2 separate regions of the Homo sapiens genome follow, and region 2 is linked to region 1. The links come from fine-mapping of genetic effects on gene expression. A gene starts in region 1. The other region holds a variant in brackets. All regions are shown on one strand. Distances are from middle to middle.

The links. PIP is the estimated chance that this variant, and not a neighbour inherited with it, causes the effect.
Region 2: its variant is fine-mapped to the expression of KLC1 in lung (TOPMed, PIP above 0.99).

Annotation. Positions count from the first base shown.
Region 1 is chr14:103,627,626-103,630,518 of GRCh38, forward strand. It overlaps KLC1 (kinesin light chain 1), which reads left to right and starts at 1,586. Exons shown (of 17, transcript NM_001394837.1): 1 at 1,586-1,869. LOC105370688 (a long non-coding RNA gene) reads right to left here and starts at 1,518. Exons shown (of 3, transcript XR_944248.2): 1 at 1,407-1,518; 2 at 114-300. RefSeq lists an enhancer at 624-713 and silencers at 1,154-1,353, 1,444-1,803, 1,854-1,973, 2,064-2,113, 2,154-2,333.
Region 2 is chr14:103,715,852-103,718,744 of GRCh38, forward strand. It overlaps ZFYVE21 (zinc finger FYVE-type containing 21), which reads left to right. Exons shown (of 7, transcript NM_024071.4): 1 at 1-128. Among named protein-coding and RNA genes, the nearest start is that of ZFYVE21, 1.5 kb to the left of the region's middle. RefSeq lists silencers at 1-192, 383-462, 563-632, 693-772 and an enhancer at 2,323-2,833. The variant G/A (reference allele first, on the strand shown) is at 1,515.

The DNA.
Region 1 (2,893 bases):
CTCTTGAGCCCAGGAGTTCGAGGTTACGGTGAGCTGATTGCCACTGCCCTCCAGTCAGGGTGACAAAGATACCCTAACTCAAAGAAATATTGAGGAAGTAGAATCTTTTCCACCTGTTGTAGTAGGGCGTAAGGGAGCGGTGCAGGCATCCCAGGTTTCTGGCTAGGGTTGTGGGTGAGCAGAGGGGACAGTTACTGGGCGCAGCGGCACAGAAAGAATGAGCAGTCGATGCTTGGCGGTGCCCAGCCCAGTGGCTGAACTTAGTGACATCCAAGCTGCAGTCTGGCTGAAATCACTAACCTGAAAGTGGTATGGAGAAAGTTTGTTTGACCCTGACTCAGTGCCTCTCCCCGGGCCAACCCTACCGTGTTACCTAGGAGCTCCCCCTTTGTCTTTATAAATGAGATAAAAGTAACCAGACCTCCCTGGAAAAACCGAGGAGCACTTGCTTCTCTGGTGACTGCGGGGCCTAACTGCAGGGTTCACAAAGGGCTGCTGGTGCTGGGTGATAACATCGGAAAGGAACAGCAGTTCACAAGATGGGGCTGGGGGACTGGCCCAGGAACCCCTCCAGGTTAAATGATGCCTCCGGGCCCCGCACTTGGGACGTCTGCAGGCACTGGGAGGGTTTTTCCCAAGCCGCTGGCAGCAGCGAGCGGAGCCTCGCCCATTGAATCAGCATGCCCTCCCGGCTGGCTGCTGAGTCAGGCCTGCGGAGCCGGCGAAGCCGCAGGACTTGACCCAGGCGCGCTCCGCTGCCCTTCAGGCCGGGCTGGAGGTCGAGGCCCTGCAGCCAGGGAGATGCGCCGGTGGCTGCGTGGGGACAGAGGGGGGTTGTCTCCCACCCTCACAGTCTACACCCCGGCCCTTCCCCTTTGCCCGTCTGAGGCGCAGTTTGTGTCGAGGGGGAGCGCCTGGAAAGTTTCCTCGTACAGATACGAGGGTCCAAAAGCCCCGAGGAGAGGGAATAATGAGAAGGGGAGGGCGCAGGGTTAGAGGTCAGGGTCTCGACCAAAGGCTGTCGGTTTTCCTGGAGGAGGGAGAAAGGCCTGGCCGGGATCATCTGATTCCGGGGCCTCCCGAAGGCCTCCTAGCTGGGTTTTGGGGGGACCGAAACGAGCGCATGAAGCTCGCGGGCCTGGGAGTGGGGTGGGGCGGGAGCCCAGTGGTGGCGGCTGCGGCCGGGCCTGCACCGTCCCCGGCCGCATTCTGGTAGGGCCCACAGTCCGGCTGGAAGGGAAGCTGCCGAAGCGCTCGGTCATCGCGGCTGCGGAGTCGGAGAGGCCAGGGCCTGGCCGCCCACCCCGCGAGCCGCGCCCTGCCCCGAGCGCCCCACCCCCGTCCGCGTTACAACCGGGAGGCCCGCTGGGTCCTGCACCGTCACCCTCCTCCCTGTGACCGCCCACCTGATACCCAAACAACTTTCTCGCCCCTCCAGTCCCCAGCTCGCCGAGCGCTTGCGGGGAGCCACCCAGCCTCAGTTTCCCCAGCCCCGGGCGGGGCGAGGGGCGATGACGTCATGCCGGCGCGCGGCATTGTGGGGCGGGGCGAGGCGGGGCGCCGGGGGGAGCAACACTGAGACGCCATTTTCGGCGGCGGGAGCGGCGCAGGCGGCCGAGCGGGACTGGCTGGGTCGGCTGGGCTGCTGGTGCGAGGAGCCGCGGGGCTGTGCTCGGCGGCCAAGGGGACAGCGCGTGGGTGGCCGAGGATGCTGCGGGGCGGTAGCTCCGGCGCCCCTAGCTGGTGACTGCTGCGCCGTGCCTCACACAGCCGAGGCGGGCTCGGCGCACAGTCGCTGCTCCGCGCGCGCGCCCGGCGGCGCTCCAGGTGCTGACAGCGCGAGAGAGCGCGGCCCTCAGGAGCAAGGCGGTGAGTCCCCGGCGTGCGCCCCGGACCGCGGCCCCCTCCTCATCCTCCGCCCCGTCCCTGTCCCGCTCCTCTTCGGACCCGCCCCGGCCGTAACTCTGTCCCCATCCAGGCCTCCTTCCCGGTTTGGGTCCCGGCCCCTCTCCGTTCCCACCCCGGTACCCGCCCCAGTTCACCGCCCCGGCCGGTCCGCGACCCCTTCCAGGTTCAGGTCGGGTTCTTGTCCCCGGCCCTTTTGCCAGCCCCGGCTCCCGGCGCCGCGCGTCCTCCCCATCCGCGTCCCACTGCAGGTTCCGGTCCCCGGCCCTGCCCAGGGCCCCGCCCTGGCCCCGCATCCCCGGCTTGGCCCTGCTGCGGGCGGCGGCGGCCGTTCCCGGGGACAGCTGTGGACCCCGGGAACCCGCGACAGGGGAGGTGGCTGACCCCGGGATCGCGGCGGGCGGGGAGGCCGGAGGCCCGGCGGGGCTGGCTTTGTCCGATTCCTCCTCTTCCTTCCACCCCCGCCTCTCCCGGCACCGCCCTGAGCGGACGCGCCTGTCATTCTCGCGGGCGGCGGGGGGCCGGGTCCCTCCCGAGAGCTGGCTCCGCTTTGCCTCCTTGGCGACCCCTTATTTTCAGTAACCAGATGCGAAACGTTTCAGGCGACCCTGTTCACCTAGGCTGGCGTTGCTCCAACTAAACTTGAAGCAGCCTCCGTCCTGGAATGCTTTTTCCATGTAAAATTGGGTGTACCCTTTTCCTTAAGAAAATTAAAATAAAGCGTAAAAGTAGTGAAATTAATGCGTGATGGAGTGGATGGTTTTATAACTTAACATTTGTAGGTCATTTCTAGGTATATTTGTATTAGAATTGTTGCTGCCTGTTACTGTTTTATTATTTAAATGAATTAAGAATTTACATATTAAGCGTTTGAAAAGGAATACTTACAAAAATGATGTTTTTTAAAAATGTGAGAACAAAAAATTTGAGATATACTATTTCAGGTGTTCTGTAAAAGGGCAGTTAGAGCTTTGATTCTTTGCATTAG
Region 2 (2,893 bases), 88 kb after region 1:
AGGTGTCCGCGCGCCGCGACGCCAAGAAGCTGGTGCGCTCCCCGAGCGGCCTGCGCATGGTGCCCGAACACCGCGCCTTCGGAAGCCCGTTCGGCCTGGAGGAGCCGCAGTGGGTCCCGGACAAGGAGGTGGGTGGCCGTCGCCCCGGCCAGCGCCTCCGACCCGCCCCGCCGCCCCGGCCCGGCCCCGCGGGCTTCCAGGCTCCCGCGACGACCCCTCCGCCTCCGGGCGGCCCCTTCCCCAGCCGGCCCCCGCCCCCGCTCTCTCCCAGGTTGGCCGCGTCCCCGGGCCGCCGCCTCAGGCTCCTACGCCCGCGGGGAGGGCGGGAGGCGCGCGGTGTCCCGGTGCGGGGGTCCCGGGAGGGCAGGAGGCACCTGTCCAGGGCGGGCGCCGGGAGGCGGGGTGCGGGGCGCGGGCTGGTCCCGGGGGTGGGTGCGGCCCTGCCCGAGGCCGGTTCGTGCTGGGCTAGCGCGTGTGGACTGCGTCCCGAGAGCTGGGGCTCGCTCCCGAGAAAGTGGAAGGCGGAGCGCCTTCCTCGCAGGCTCGGTGGGGAGGGCGCGTGCTGTCCGCGGAAGCGCTGGAGCTGGCGGCCCCGCAGGGGTCCCTCCCGGGAACCGGGGGAGGCGTCGGTGCCGCGGGCGGGTGGCCGGTTCCGAAGCCACCTCCTGCTCGGAAGGAGGGCCAGGACCCAGTCTGCGGGCCAGGCTGCCCCCCGTTTCCCTTCGTCTATACCACCCTCCACCTCGGAAGCGAGGTCGCAGTCGCCCACTGGACAGTTTGAAGGAGACCGCAGATTTGCACCCGTTTCCCATGGGCCCAGACACGGCAGGAGTTGCCCAGGCCACTCCTGCAGACATTGGGGCGTGGGCGTGGGGTCCCTGAGCCAGGCCATCCGCTGGGCCTCCCGTGGGGTTCCCTGTGACCTGATCGGAGGTGCCTTTGCCTCACACCAGCCCCTTGGCCAACTGGGAAGGCCCCGAGTGCATTTAATCCCACTGGCTGTGCGCTAACAGGTGTGTCCAGTTTCTGTTCTGTGGATTTTACCACGATAAAAAAAAAATTGGGGGAGAAAAAGAATTTTTGTAATATGACTTTCATACTTAACACGTGTTACAGATTCGTTTAATTCCCTCAGTGATAGAACTAAGCAGACGTTGGAACTAGGTTCAAGAAGTCAAAGTAGCACTAATTGACTGGGTTCATTGAAGCTTGGTTGGAGGCCTGGTGGGGGGTGAGCGGCCACAGAGCCTCGGGGACAGGACGGAATTCGAGTGACTCTGGGGAAGTGTCTCTGGCATCTACAGTGTACGGAGCCATCACCGGTCACTGAGCGTGTCCTGGAGAGTTGAGACCAGTGCTGCCCACCTCTCCCCAGTATCGCCACCATGAGGAGTCTTTTTAGACACTTTCCGCCAATCATCCTCCTTCATCTTTTTTAAAATTTACTTTTAAGTTGACACGTGAAAATTGTATTTATGGTGTAACGAACTCTTAATAGCACAGAAATACTCTAC[G/A]TCTGTATGAACCGTAAGGAGCACGTGAGAAAGTGTGGCCAAGATGAGGCAGAGGTTTCCACCAAAGCACAATTTCTTTCTCCCTGCTGTACACATGCACTGATCTTACGGTTCTGTTTTATAGTGAACCACTGTGTTCCCCTCCTTCATTCTCTCTTCCAGAGCCCTTCTGGTATCAGCTGAATTGTTTAGCATTTTTCCCTGCCTTTCTTTGTGGCCTCTGCTGAGGCACTGTGTGGCAGTCCCGCGGTGACTTCCGACTGAGTGGAGTTGAAACACTTGAGTCAAGGTGGCACCCCTCGTGGAAGAGAAGATTCATTCCCACGCTGGCGTGGTGGCAGGATACCCCTCCAGAGCCCCCCACCATGTTTGGATGATTAACTGGGATCTGAGCAGCTGAGGGAGGTCCTAGCATTGGGTGGGCTTGGGGGACAGAGAAACCATTCTAATAAGATGGACTTTGTCTCTGAGTTTTGCGTTGTGAATTGTATTGGAGCATGGTCTTACAGGCCAGAAACGACCAAAGACAGTGTTCTGGAGGAACTTAGAACGGGGCAGTAAGGGCTGGAAGATTTGGAATAAAGTCCAGCTTTAGGTGCAATAGCTCGAGGGGACATGTACGGTAACAGTCGCCTGGCATGTGGTGATGCTGAAGGGGACACTGAGCTACACTGTGCTGGCTGCGTGCTTGGGGCCGCTAAGGTGATTGTCGGGAGGTGACTCAAATGTGCAGATAACCAGTTGTGGGAAATAGGTTTATTTGAGGTGGTTTGGAATGGGGAGAGGAGAATTTGGTAGAACTTGGCAGGTGGGTAACATTGTCCTTGGCTTGGTGGCCGTGTGCCGATCGGCATCATCGTCATATCTGTAAACGTGTTGGTCCATTTTCATTCCAGCTCTGTTCTTAGCCAGGGGAGTCTGAATCCAGCCCAGTGCCCGTCTCCCGAATACCAGCTGCCTGACCGGGCTGGTTTATCAGTTTGGGCCCATGAGGGTTATCCCTTTAAAATGCTGCAAAACCCCCTGGGGAGCATGTGCACACATGCACCTTTCTCCGAGAGGTGGCCTGCAGCTCTCAGATTCTCAAGGCTCTGACGCAGAACCAGTTGAGAATCGTTTCTCCAGTCTGTGCCTCCTCAGGAACCTGTGGGGCAGGGGAGGCAGAGGCGGCGTGTAAAGCTTCGTGCGACACCACTTTGGATAGAGGTGCTTTGGGGGTGTGAAGGAAGCTTCAGATGATCTCTGGGGCTTGTCTGACTCTGCCATCAAATATCCGACACTGACGCAAGGCAGTGGGCTTGGGGGTGGGCGGTCCGGGCGTGCAGCCATCTGGGCTTGTCACAAGCAGCTGAGATCCTGAGTTTTATCCTTAAAATCCT